Homo sapiens: one gene and its partner. Each later gene encodes a partner of the first gene's protein in a complex. Each region holds a gene or a part of one and is shown in the gene's direction. Other genes may lie near its edges.

Region 1 (8,567 bases):
GTATGCTCAATGCCACATCAAAATTCATGGAGGTACTAAACGTTTAAAAGGAATTAACTGGGGAAGGGAGGAGGTCCTCCGTTAGACTTCACCATCTTGAGACTTGATGACATCGCCACAATGTCAAGTGTGGTTTCTTCTGTCAAATATTCCTCAGTTGCATGAAAAGTAGATGTTAAACCTGTGTCTAGATTCTTGAATAGAACAGTTATGCTGGCTTTCACTCTTGTATTATACCACAATGGTAGACATATCTGTTATTCTGCACCAAACCACTAAGAATACCAAAGCAAATTTACTAAGAGGGACTAGATGTGTGTGTGTGTGTGTGTATGTGTGTGTGTGTGTGTGTGTATATATATATATACATATGCTATTTGTTTTTATAATAATGAATACAACACAACAATTTCCATCTGGAAGACGTGCTGATGTTTATCTTATGTCACTTGGGGAGAAGCACATTTCTCACATTCTTTAAAGATGGATTTACTAATTCAAAGTAGAGAGTAGTACTTACATGTACTTATATTAGTACGGTTTCTATGTCTAATATACAAATAATATAAAATTGTAGAACTTCTTAAAATAATATTTTGGTTTAACAAATTCAGTTGTTGGTTTTTTTAGTACACCTGACCATATTAATGTTTTTCTGAAAAGCTTAATCACATGACTGTTTTGGGAAACCTATTTAAAATGCATCTTTTCTTTGCAAAACTAGTTACATGTGGACTGAGGAGGAAAACCAAAAGGATAACTATTTCTCTTAAATCAGTATAATTTAGTGCTTTGATGTAAGTTTCATGTAGCTCACATTCCACATGTAATTATTTACAGACATCTCAAGGTATGCTTTCCCAACTTGGAAAATTCACAGAATTCGTGGTTTTACAGTTGACCAGTTATCCTGCTTGGAAATTCTTGTTTTAAAATTAAAAGTGCTCATGAAAACTGCCAAACTAACAACTTAAAATTGAAGTTTCTTACTGGGTTAGTCTTCAAAGTGAAAAACAAAGTAGACAGTAGGAGATTGTCAGAATTTGGGCTGTGTGAATAAGCAATCTAGATATTCCAGATGCAAACATTAGAGAAAAGAGGTTCACTATAAGAAGGAGCTTACTAATCCTTACAGCCAGACAAAATGAAATGGGCTGTTTCATAAAGACTGTCTCCTATCTAGACGTGTTCAAGTAAAGGGTAGCTACCCTTCAGGCATGGGTGGGCTAGACGGTTGCAGTAAAGGGTATGAGTTGAACAGATAATTTTTTAGAGTTCATTCCAAGTCTGAAGTCCTGTTCTCTTTTTCTAAATTTATTTCCCCTATTTTTTCCATTCTTGCTCTTCAACTTTACCCTAGACTGATGGTAGGCCCCTCTCTACCCATGTTGATGACATCAGTTCCAAAGAGATGCATTACCCATTTCTCTGTGGGCCTTTGCCATGGAGGGGGCAGGGGACTCCATTCAGCCCTCTCAAGGGTCAGCCTCTAGACCCTCTGCAGCTGTTTCTGCATCATTTATACCCAGCCAGCAAATGCACCCGGAAAAAGAGGATACAAAAGAAGGGAGAATGGGTGCTCAAAGGAGTGTTCGTGTTGCACTTCAAAAAAGAGAGAGAGAGTGCTTCTGACTTTTTTTAAGTTCAGGACTGAAATCTTTCTACAGTGTGTTGGGAACAGGGAAATGTTTGTGTAAGCAGTTTAGAATAAACCAACTCCTTTGGGAGTTTGCACTTAACCTGAGGATAGAATTCAGGGATCTGTGAACTTGGTTGGAAAAGAAACAACATGTTTATTTTCACTAACTTCTAACTGAATTTATTATTTCCTTCTATTATGAATGTACCCAACAAATCACCATAGTGTTTACCAGTATCATGACTTTTTCAGTAATAAAAATAGCAGACATTTTCATACGATATAACACTTGTATAATCTCAAAATATTATTTATGCTCTTCAGAACTTCAACACTTCAACAGTTCGGTAGTTATTAGAACCATCACTAGGTTTGTTATTTGTGAATAAACACAATATTACTATATCTAAATTTAATTTCTAATATTTTGATAGCTGTGCTTTAATGTAATTGGTTTCCATTGCAATCTTATGTATTTTATTTTATGCATGTAAAAGTATTATTCTCAGAAGGGATTATAGTCTTTACCAGACTTCCAAAAGGGTCTGTGGCATAAAAATAGTCAAGAACTCCTCCCCCAAATTTTTTGTCTTTAGGAACCATTTTTAGATTATTTTAATAGCCATGTTATAAATGCAGCCTTCTTAGCCTCTTTCTATATTCAGAAACTGTCCCATTTTTTACAGAGCAACATGATTATTTTTTACTGTGGGAACTGCATTGTCCTTAGTAAATTAACAATCTGAAGAAGCACTATAAGGAAAGAAAAAGCATTTCGTCCCAAGTTGGTGATTAATTTTGTGGGAAGAAGAATTTAGATATCATTTTTCATTTTCCATTTTTATAGGGTATTAAGTTTTCTTCTTTAAGCAGAAGTAAAACCGAATAATCTCGGTATTTATAAATCCTGCCCAGTTAGATAATACCAGATATGCTTCAGTTGAGATATGCTGCCTCAATAGTTTCCAGGTGGTAAGTATTAAAGGAGGGAGAAGAGTATAGCTATTGAAGTTCAAAGCGGCTGGCTTTAAGGTCACATAGCAGGCATACCAGGCAGAGGGTTAACCCCTATTAACCAAAGCTACACAGATAAGCCATTCGTAACCTTCACCGTTTCAGGTTAAATACACTTTCACCACAATAGTCAAAAGTAAAGCAGGCGCTAACAAAATTTTGAGGTTCATCCAGAAATAAAGATAAACATGTATATTCTTTTGTCTCAAAATCATGTTTTATGAGCTTTAGAAGGACATTATTTTTATTGATTAGGGCTCTTCCGTTGTGTAGTTGAAACCTTCAATCTATGAAAAGTATCAAGTATCCTTGTCAAGATAATTTTTGTAAGTGCAGTTTCTTTATGTGCTGTTTAAAGCCAGGATAATTTCTGAAGCTTCCAACTGAATTGAGTTTTGAGCCCCACTCCCAAACCCATCACTGCAACCAGAGAGCATGATTTTACAGATGTATCTGCAAGTTTAAAGACCTTAAAGCTACCAGAGGCACAGCATGGTTAATTGACATGACTCTGCTCCTCCTTTTCTCTTTTTTTTTTTTTCACTTTGAAGTTCTACCAAGATGTAAAGGACTGGTGGCTCTTCGGGTTCTATTTCTGTATGCCCTTGGTGTGCACTGCGATCTTCTACACCCTCATGACTTGTGAGATGTTGAACAGAAGGAATGGCAGCTTGAGAATTGCCCTCAGTGAACATCTTAAGCAGGTAAATCCCATAACATCATGAAAATCTGGCCAGGACTGGTTAGTCCTTGACAGCAGCAGGCCTGCAAATACCATCTTTAGTAGAATTAGCCTGATTTCCTAAAATAAAAATACTATCCTGTAACTGTTTTCTTTATAGTAATAGTGTTAGAAATTTCTTTTGTAAAATGGGAAACCTGCTTGTAAAACAAGTGGTCCTGAAGGCTGGGCCCAAATAGAGAAGAACTATCCCTCTATTTTGCCAAGAGTGTACTGAGCATGTGTGTATGTGAGTTCGTGCATTCAATTGGGCTTGAAACTGTACCAGGACACAAAAAAGCATGTAACTTTCTCCCCATGCAGATTTACAGTCTTGTTGTAGAAATAAAATATGCATGCAAAACAACTGGAATATAGAACCACAGGTGTGGTAAAAGTAGCCTGTGCTATGGAAAGCCAGGAAGGGTATGAGATAGAGTCATGGGGAAGCTGTTCATGGATGAGGGGGATTGAACCAGACCTTGGAGGATAAGTGGGATTTGATGGGGAAGAAGTTGACAGAGAGCATTTCAGGTGGAAGAACAGGAGTCTAGTTAGAACGTGGAATAGGAACCATGCATTTGGGGAATGGGAAAAAGGAGATGAACCTCTCTAGAGCAATGTCTAATGTGAGACTTATGCTAGGAAATGGGATCATGTACATTAGAAGAGGTAAAGTGTTGGAGGACCCAAAGTTCTAGAAGGAATTTGAACATGTCAATAGGAGGCTAATGTTGGTCCCTCCTGGGTGAAATTAGAACAGATAAAGCTGTGGGCTTTCAAGGGCAAAACTAGACTCATACTTGGCTCTCTGACCTTGGGCAAATTGCTTAATCTCTCTGAACTTCTAGTTTCTCATAATATGTATGTAATAATACATCATGGGGATTACCTGAGACATATAAGGTGCCTAATAGTACCCAGCTCCTAGTAGGTATTAAGCAAATGTTAATTTACATTAATTCTAAGAGGAAACCTAGGACTTCAGGTAAGTTCCCTGTTGCAACAGAAAAGTATATAATGGTGGCCAACTACACCAAAAGTTAATGTGAGTTGTTGATGGAGTCTGTAAATCTGTCCTATATAATTACCATGTGCAAGCATAGTTCCTCATCAGCAACTCTTCAACTACTATACTGATTTTTCTGAGCTTCAGCTTTTCATCTGTAAATTGGGCATAATATATGAATCAATAGTATTATGAGGATCAAAAGGATGAATGTGTATGCATGTACTTTATAAAATCTAACATGCCATACAAATGGTAGCTATTATCTTTCATTGACATTTAGCAAGAAGATTACATTGAGAAACCTTAGTATGACTTTGTTCAGGCATGAAAGTTTCAAATACTCCAATTGCTTAATATGTTTACAATTATTTCCTCTCATTCTTGGAATGGAGGTAGTTAGTATGGGTTTGTGAAAAACAGTGTTTTAAAATATGGATTTTTGCATTCGCACCATGATTGAGCCTGTTTAAGCTATGAGTGGTATTTGCTGTGGAAATAATTAAATAGTTAATTATTTAATTTTGGAATAATATTAATTATTTAATTGTGGAAAGAAATAATTGTCATATGCTGCTTCATGTTTACACAGCATTTTTTAAGTTTTTAAAGTGCATTTCCATTTCCATGTCTTTTTCTTATTTGATTCCTCCAAGCACCCTCTGAGATCAGTAGGATATATATTCTTTATTATACAGGTGATTTAGAGGTTTGCTCAACCAAATGGAGATTAGAACCCAAGATTTTGTCCTCATGCAGTTAACGTTCCTTTTGGTGCCACTCAAATCTGTAGCAAATCCTAAGTACAGAAGAGCAAGTGTGGCTGAAAGTCCTGCAGATGGGACTGCGGGAGAAACAGCATAGAGCACAAAACCTTGCCATCTTGACTAATACTCTGTGGGGCTCATAGTTTTGCTTCTTGCTTGGTTGTCTCTAATTTCTCCTCATCATAATGATGACAGTTTTATCAAGTAGGGGTTGTGTTCGGATGCTGGGAACACAAAACCCAAAATAACTGTTAGTTGACCAAGAAGGAGTTTATCTTTCTCCCATAGCAAAAAGTTCAGACATCAAGATTTAGTGGTCAAGCCAAGTTAGAGGCCAGGTATCTACTGTTTTGCTGATCTTTGCTTCAGTCTCAGGAGACTGTAGCAGCAGCTCTACTTTTATATCTGATTTCCAAGCAGCAAGAGGGGAAGAACAGAAAACAACCCGTCATGGGTGTGCATCAAAAGAGTGTCCCTATACTTCTCAGTAGCTCTTCCGGAAACCCATGCAATGGTTTCTATTTCATCTAACGGGTCAAAACCCTGCCAAGTGGCCATGTAGATAATTAGGCCAGGTTCCCCAGCTGCCTTAACAAATCAAGACCAGAGTGATGGTAAGGAAGACAGGAGAATGGATATTGGTTAAGCAAATATCAGACTATCATGGCAGTGTACTAATACTGCTTTTAAAAGCGTTATCCTCTTTGAGTATGCACTCAGGAAAGGTAACCTCTCCCCTAATACACTGCTTTTCTATTTTTCTGGGCACACTGTCTTTCTGGACACACAAAATGACCCTTTTAAAAAGAGCCCCCATTCCTGAAGATTTGAATATTTTATTTCTTCCCTCAGTCATTACTCCGGAGCCATATCCCAGCTAGCCCAATAACTATGAGAGGTTAAAGAACTCCCAGTTCCTTTAGCTAGAGTAGCGAGTTATGAAAACTGCCCCAGAATATTTTGAATGGCTCAGCCAATCATGTGAGTTTATTGTAGGCTTCCCGGACTTAATGTTATATGTTTCAGGTTGAGCCAGCATTACCCTTCCAGACCCTGTTTTTAATCAGTTTTATTTTGACATTAACTGATCCCAGTTACAGACAAGTTGCATTTTGTGTTCCTAGTCAGGCTTCTAAATGCATGCAATATAATACTCAAATAATGCACACCAATGAATGGTTGCAGATAATTCCTAATTTATAGATTTTCTGATCCTGAGCAGACTGAAAGGCATGCAAACCTTCCATGAAGTCCGTCCAAGGTCAGCATGTTTCAGATTTTCTAGTCATCACTGCTGATAATCCTTTACCCTCATCCTTCTGCTTGCAAACAACATATAATATTTTTATATGTCATTAAGAAACTACATGTCATTAAGAAAAGAATTTAAAGAGCAAAAAATCCCAATAATAGCTATGTTCAAGATCAGGAAAAGGAAAAAACATAGTGCTATGACTTTTCCTTTTCTACTCCCCACTCCTATTTTGTTTTCTCCAGGTCTTTGTTGATTTGTCCATGCAATATCATGTGATGTTCAGTCTCCTTGCCTTCCATGCCATCATTAATGCTAATTAGTTACCTGTTATTAAGAGTCATTAGCTAACCCTTTCCCCCATGCAGTCACACTCCACCCCACTACACACACACACAGGCAGACTCAGCCACCTACACACACACAGCTGCAGACTCAGCTGGCTCACCTCCAGCCAGTTTCCACCTCTCTCCTGGCATATAACCTCCGTCCTGGCCCTAATAACCAACCTGAGGCCCCCATCCTTCCTGGAAGCTGCCCAGAAGCATCATTAGCAATTCCTTCGTTAGAACACTGACCTTAGAATCTTGAAGAGGTAGAGGCAGTGTAAGCCAGGCTGTTCTCCTGGCTCTTCTTTGAATTATTCTTTCTCTGGTGTCTGCTACTTCTTGGTACTGTAGTTCTTGCATCTAGTATAAAAACACTAAATTTGTTGTCCTATTTTTTTCTCACTTTCCTTTAGCGTCGAGAAGTGGCAAAAACAGTTTTCTGCTTGGTTGTAATTTTTGCTCTTTGCTGGTTCCCTCTTCATTTAAGCCGTATATTGAAGAAAACTGTGTATAACGAGATGGACAAGAACCGATGTGAATTACTTAGGTATGATCCTGTGTACTCGCTAGAAAATTGGAGTTTCTCAGATTTTCATATTTATAATACTTTTACAAAACCAGCTACTCTACATGCCCGTTAGCCCTGAAAATTAAAACTGCAAAGTTGATTTTTTTCTTTAGCTGACATAGCCTATAACTGATCCCAAAATGTGTGCAAGCCACATCTGTTATCTTGCCCCTCCCCTCCTGAGGCTGTGCATAAGGGTTTGAGCTAACCAACTAGTGATGTATCTGTAACTGTCCTGCAAAACTGAAACTGCCGTTTAAACAAGCACTTTTTACAAAATTCTAACTGCCACCCATACGAAATGGCTTCTGGGCAAGAAAAATGCTTATTCTAGGAAGAAATGCTAGTGAGCAGATTTTAAAACAATATATTCTAATTATTCTACACCATTTTCTTTTGCTCTAGTTTCTTACTGCTCATGGATTACATCGGTATTAACTTGGCAACCATGAATTCATGTATAAACCCCATAGCTCTGTATTTTGTGAGCAAGAAATTTAAAAATTGTTTCCAGGTAAGATGATTTTTCAAGTATTTTTTAAAGACAACAAAATGAGTATATTAAACAGTCAACAGACACAGCCAATTCCAGTTGTAATATTACTTTGATCAGCTATACTACTTTTTAGCAGTGAAGTGAAAATCATGTTTTATTACCCAGAAAGAGAGTCAGATTGTCGGCATAACAGAAAAGCAGTTCCTATTTAGACAACCACATACAAAGAGGTTAAAATCAAAAGGACTAAATCACATGCCAGTTTAGAACCCTCCTTTAGAGAGAAATGTTTCAATGTATGCTCCAGGCCACAGAGAGTACATAAGACCTATTCATACCTTACTTTGTCTTAGACTTGAACCAAAGTCTTGACAAAATATAAGCTCTATTGTTAAGAAAGCGCTCACTGATCGAGACCATCCTGGCCAACATGGTGAAACCCTGTCTCTACTAAAAATACAAAAATTAGCCAGGCATGGTGGCGGGCACCTGCAGTCCCAGCTACTCGGAGAATGGCGTGAACCCAAGAGGTGGAGCTTGCAGTGAGCCGAGATAGCGCCACTGCACTCCAGCCTGGGCGACAGAGCCAGACTCAGTCTCAAAAAAAAAAAAAAAAAAAAAAAAAAAAGAAAGGTCTCACTAAATGCTGTTTAATTGTGTACTTAGTAATAGAATCTTCAAGGAAAGTAAATGCTTATTGCTGTGGGAATCTGAACAAATATAATTTTATTCAAAATCAGTTTCCTTCTGCTTTCAAACCTCCAGCCAGCTC
Region 2 (5,901 bases), on another chromosome or scaffold:
ACCATCCAAGTGCCTCAGTGGGGACAGTTTCCCTCTATTCCTGAAAATAACGACAGCTTCGTTCTTAGCAACCAAGGGGAGGGTCTTCTGAGGCCCCGTAGCTCAGGCTACTCATGATGGGACAAGCAGGAGGCCACTGCACGTTTCAAATGAGGAACTTTCAGTGAGAGGGCCTCAGGGGGACACTCTCACAGTGGCATCTGATGGGGTTTCGGGAATAATTGCCGAGGTCAGATGTGGGTTAGTGCAACCTGTGCTTCTCATGGGAGGGTGGAGACTGAGAGGCAGAAGTGATGATATAGAGGGTTAGAATCACTTAATTTTACTTACAGAAAAACCTAGGCTCAAAGTGTTGAAGCCATTTGTGCAGGAGTGAGTTTGTAGCAGAGCTAGAACTGGAGCCCGGATTTCCTTTGCTGCTATATTTTCCCTTTAGAAATGCCCATTTCAGAACTGAAATAGAAATACTGTCCATAGGCTTCTCTTTCACCTACAGAGAAGAAAAGCAGATTTCCTCCTTCTGCCCTGGACACTAGTTCATCATCTGTCGGAAGCAGTCATAAACAAGCACACATTTACTATGCATACAATGTACCGTTATGACAAAGGAGGACCAAAATCCAAACAATATCAAACCACACCAAAAACCACAAGGAGCCTAATAATTACTAAGGTGATACTTCCAAAGGGAGGACTTTATTTCTTAGATGAGAATGAAAATGGACACATTGGAAATTATTGGAGAGCCCTCTGGCTATGAGTCCTTCCACAACCATATGGTACCACCGACTGGCAGGAGAAATGTGTGAACATGTGCCTCCTCCTCCCCCAACCACTGGGGTCGGTGGGGTGACGGTGGCACTTTTAGCAGTATCCTCCGTGGTTTGAGTTGAAAATAAGTTTTAAAAATCCTGTGAGTCATGGTTTTGCATTGAAACCTCTTCCCACTGTGTACCCACAAATAGTTAACTAAATAGACCATTAGAAAAGGAAGAAAATATAAAGCAGATGCCAAGCAGAGATGTCCTAATTTTTGACAAAAAAGCAATGTTGCTTGTGTCAAGAAGAAACTGAACTTTGTGAAGAGTTGAAATGGAATTCCACTGAATTAGAAAAACTTGTTTTCTCCTGCCTGGATACATACAGTCAGGGCCATTGATGCACAGGTGTTCCTGGCTGTTGTTACACTTTACCCTCTGAAATGATGCTCCCAAGTGCTATGTGATGAGCTCCTTGTGTGCCCAGTGGAATAGGTGTGTCCATGTGTCATTTTAAAGACTATTAATTACACTAATATAGTTTCTTTCTCTCTTTGGATAATAGGCACGTTGTTCCGTATGGACTTGGAAGCCCTAGGTCCAAGAGAGCCTTGGAGAATTTACTTCCCACAAAGGCAACAGACCGTGAAAATAGATGCCAATGTGCTAGCCAAAAAGACAAGAAGTGCTGGAATTTTTGCCAAGCAGGAAAAGAACTCAGGTGAGCAGAAACACCTTTGCTTTTCAATCAGTTTAACAGCCTCCTGAACTCCTTCCTATCATGGTACTGCCTTCCTGTTTTAGAGAGACTAACAGAGACATTGAAAGTCAGGGTAAAGCTGAATATAACATTGCTGAAATGTTTTTCCTTGTGTATTTTAACAGGGCTGAAGACATTATGGAGAAAGACTGGAATAATCATAAGAAAGGAAAAGACTGTTCCAAGCTTGGGAAAAAGTGTATTTATCAGCAGTTAGTGAGAGGAAGAAAAATCAGAAGAAGTTCAGAGGAACACCTAAGACAAACCAGGTAAGAGGGAAGGAAGAAAAATTAGGTAAGAGGTTCACAAGAACAACTAGCCCCAGTCAGTGATGCCAGCAGCCTGTTCCTCCAGCCCTTCTTACCCGGGCAGGTGAAAGACTTAGAAAACAGTAGCAGAGGAGATCTATGCATCCTATAGATTAAAAGGAGCAAAAGAATCCCTCTTAAATATTTCCATGAAGCTCTGGAATGCAAACCGATGTCCTCTGTACTTTTAGCACATACCATTTCATCTACAGGTAGATTTCCCAACCAAAATATATCCAGAGATGCCTTTGTCATTGGGTTATATACAGCCTTTGCCTCTCTGAGTCAATGTATTTACCACTTTCCCTGAGAAATCGAAAATCATTTTGGGGAGCGGACATTTAGAAAAAGAATCAAAGTGTCATGGATAATCAAATTCTTCAATAAGTTGCAGTTATTCAGATGGCCAAAGGAAAAATAAAGTCATTAGATAGGGTTGGTAGAATTTAGAACATGCTGTTTTTCAGGTTTATGGTCTTTTTTTTTTTTTTTTTTTTAAATAGGGAAATGTGTTTGGTGCAGAGCCAATGTCATTCCAAAAAGCTCTCTCTTTTCCTGGTCAGTCATGTGCTGGGACAGAGAAGGGATCTGGATTAGGCAACATCATAGAGTTGCTCTGAGCTGCTCTTTGGTGATAACCCTTCCAAATCCTAAACTTTTTGGAATTCACAAGCTCAAAGGAGGAAACCTACTCTCTGATCTACCACATGTTCTGCATTTTTCTATCATGGTCTATGGAAACTTCTCTTAGAAATCCAGTGGCAAGAAGTTCTATGATTAAAGTGTTCTGAGCTCAGGCCAGGCAGTCATGAACTACTTCTGAGTTATTTACTACTGATTTGTGGGGCAGCCTCAGCTATCGGTTTCTTCACACCTGCTTATGAGAGTATCCATATTTATGGTCGCAGGCCAGTAATGCTCCCCACGAGATCAGTTTCTGAACTAACCTGGAATTTTTTATGGGTTTTTATTATGCCAACTATTAAATCAACATTACAGTTCTTCCCTCTGTATTTCTCCTGTAAAACATTAGGCCTGCAAAAAAAAAAAATCTTTTTAAAAATAATTGCCATAAAGTATTTGCTCTGGGCCTACTGTATGCTTCTTTTCTTTTTCTCTCTTTTCAACTAAGTCACCGTCAATTTATTAAGATGGCCATAACTATTCAAAACCTATGCTGAGTTCCTCAAGGCAGGGTCACATAGTGATGAAGGTTGGGATGGGGCTACGGAAGAAACCAGAACAACTCTAGTTTATTTAAAACCTGTATTTACTGCCCACTTCCCCTTAGACTTGACCATATGACCCCTCGCTCCCATTCTAAGCATAGGGGCAGGCTTTATTTTTACAATGGTAATAGATATCACTTGAGGTTTTATCAAAGAGTTGCGGCGGGTGGTGAAAGTTCACAACCAGATTCAGGTTTTGTTTGTGCCAGATTCTAATTTTACATGTTTCTTTTGCCAAAGGGTGATTTTTTTAAAATAACATTTGTTTTCTCTTATCTTGCTTTATTAGGTCGGAGACCATGAGAAACAGCGTCAAATCATCTTTTCATGATCCCAAGCTGAAAGGCAAGCCCTCCAGAGAGCGTTATGTGACCCACAACCGAGCACATTGGTGACAGACCTTCGGGGCCTGTCTGAAGCCATAGCCTCCACGGAGAGCCCTGTGGCCGACTCTGCACTCTCCACCCTGGCTGGGATCAGAGCAGGAGCATCCTCTGCTGGTTCCTGACTGGCAAAGGACCAGCGTCCTCGTTCAAAACATTCCAAGAAAGGTTAAGGAGTTCCCCCAACCATCTTCACTGGCTTCCATCAGTGGTAACTGCTTTGGTCTCTTCTTTCATCTGGGGATGACAATGGACCTCTCAGCAGAAACACACAGTCACATTCGAATTCGGGTGGCATCCTCCGGAGAGAGAGAGAGGAAGGAGATTCCACACAGGGGTGGAGTTTCTGACGAAGGTCCTAAGGGAGTGTTTGTGTCTGACTCAGGCGCCTGGCACATTTCAGGGAGAAACTCCAAAGTCCACACAAAGATTTTCTAAGGAATGCACAAATTGAAAACACACTCAAAAGACAAACATGCAAGTAAAGAAAAAAAAAAGAAAGACTTTTGTTTAAATTTGTAAAATGCAAAACTGAATGAAACTGTTACTACCATAAATCAGGATATGTTTCATGAATATGAGTCTACCTCACCTATATTGCACTCTGGCAGAAGTATTTCCCACATTTAATTATTGCCTCCCCAAACTCTTCCCACCCCTGCTGCCCCTTCCTCCATCCCCCATACTAAATCCTAGCCTCGTAGAAGTCTGGTCTAATGTGTCAGCAGTAGATATAATATTTTCATGGTAATCTACTAGCTCTGATCCATAAGAAAAAAAAGATCATTAAATCAGGAGATTCCCTGTCCTTGATTTTTGGAGACACAATGGTATAGGGTTGTTTATGAAATATATTGAAAAGTAAGTGTTTGTTACGCTTTAAAGCAGTAAAATTATTTTCCTTTATATAACCGGCTAATGAAAGAGGTTGGATTGAATTTTGATGTACTTATTTTTTTATAGATATTTATATTCAAACAATTTATTCCTTATATTTACCATGTTAAATATCTGTTTGGGCAGGCCATATTGGTCTATGTATTTTTAAAATATGTATTTCTAAATGAAATTGAGAACATGCTTTGTTTTGCCTGTCAAGGTAATGACTTTAGAAAATAAATATTTTTTTCCTTACTGTACTGATTTGGAATCATTACTGAAATTTGTAAGGAGTGGGCCAACGTGATTAAGTACCATAAAGGCAAATAAATGGTTAAAGACGGTTTCATAGAAAAGTGACAATTAGAAGGATATTACGGTCTAAGCTAATTATATAAAGAATTTTATCTGTATCTTAAATGTTGATTTTATACTGCATTGAGGTAAAAACACAAAACAAAAAAGCAGCTTTAACACCTCTGTCTTCTCTTGGGTAGCAGCCTCCTGCTTCTCCTTCACCTGAAAAATTCTCCAGGGACTTCATCCATTAACTTGGCTCAGGCTATTAGGCAGGATTCAACAGTTTAAGCTGATGGTGTGGTGAGAGATGCTTTATCCATATTAATGGACTGAAGGAAGTAATGGCAAGACAACCCCCCAAAACATACCTAATTATACAAAGTTATATACCAAAGTTGCTTTTAGAAAATGGCCTGCTCAGAGCAAGTAGAGGTTTCCAATGGCTTTTTATTTTCTCACATTAAGGATGTTGTTTCTTAAGGAACATTGAGTACCATTGCTTCTTCGTGATAGCCTAGGACTGGCCGTGTGCCCATGGAGGTAGAGACACCAGGTACTGATTCTAGGTCCTCTGCCACAAAGCACCACTTCCTCTCCACTTTGCCTTGGCTGGCCTTGTCAGCTCACTGGAGAGCACAGTATTGCAATTGCAGTATTGCAAATGGTCACTACTAACTGAATTCTCTAAGAGCTTGATTAGCCCTCGAGAATCTTCCTTGCCCTTCTCTAATAGTGTCTGAAGGAATTCCTGGCATTTAACAAATATTAGCATGTAGTGATCACTGTCGTCCTAACAGTGACACATCAGAAGGATTTCAAATAACAGTCTTCAGGCATGCGTAATCAATGTCCTGTGCAGAGTCTCCGTCCTCATTGATCCTCATTTTTCTCTTTAAGGCACAGTCCAATGTCTTTGGGGAATTGTTTATAAAGCTTACTTTATCCATAAACTGTTTCTCAGTGCGTGACTCTGAAGAAAATTTTGAAGTTTTGCCCATGTTGACAAGGTGCTTGGTCTGAACTTGGCCAGTATTTAATCTTGAGCAAACGATTCAATTTCCTTCTATCGTGAGTTTTCTCATCTATGAAACAAGGGAGTTGAGGGGAGTTTCTTTCATACCTCTGAGAAAGAGTTTGAGATTACATAAAGAAGTTGAAGTGGCATGAAAAAAAATAAAGATCTGAGCTTAGAAGACATGGATCTAATACATTTAAGAGGAAGTCAGAATCAGAGAAGCCACTGAACAAAACAGTCCAAAGGACAGCATAGTAAGTCAGATTGAT

What was found.
Region 2: the proteins of EDNRA (region 1) and EDN1 are in contact, whole or in part, in a cryo-EM structure (PDB 8HCQ), measured with the Homo sapiens proteins. Residues at the interface, in NP_001948.1 of Homo sapiens: Tyr68, Gln72, Thr73, Lys74, Tyr129, Asp133, Ile136, Asn137, Lys140, Leu141, Gly144, Arg145, Trp146, Gln165, Lys166, Val169, Glu220, Phe224, Val227, Phe229, Tyr231, His236, Lys237, Thr238, Cys239, Met240, Leu241, Asn242, Gln252 (codon at 3,211), Lys255 (codon at 3,220); in NP_001403492.1 of Homo sapiens: Cys53, Ser54, Leu58, Asp60, Lys61, Glu62, Cys63, Val64, Tyr65, Phe66, Cys67, His68, Leu69, Asp70, Ile71, Ile72, Trp73.

The regions. Positions count from the first base shown.
Region 1 is NC_000004.12:147,532,673-147,541,239, forward strand, and holds part of EDNRA (endothelin-1 receptor isoform a precursor), read left to right. Parts: coding exon 1-32; intron 33-3,204; coding exon 3,205-3,357; intron 3,358-6,980; exon of another isoform or gene 6,981-7,144; coding exon 7,145-7,278; intron 7,279-7,704; coding exon 7,705-7,813; intron 7,814-8,567. UniProt on the Homo sapiens protein: Receptor for endothelin-1. Mediates its action by association with G proteins that activate a phosphatidylinositol-calcium second messenger system. The rank order of binding affinities for ET-A is: ET1 > ET2 >> ET3.
Region 2 is NC_000006.12:12,292,618-12,298,518, forward strand, and holds the end of EDN1 (endothelin-1 isoform 1 preproprotein), read left to right. Parts: intron 1-1,323; coding exon 1,324-1,479; intron 1,480-1,643; coding exon 1,644-1,787; intron 1,788-3,344; coding exon 3,345-3,450; 3' UTR 3,451-4,577; downstream 4,578-5,901. UniProt on the Homo sapiens protein: Endothelins are endothelium-derived vasoconstrictor peptides. Probable ligand for G-protein coupled receptors EDNRA and EDNRB which activates PTK2B, BCAR1, BCAR3 and, GTPases RAP1 and RHOA cascade in glomerular mesangial cells.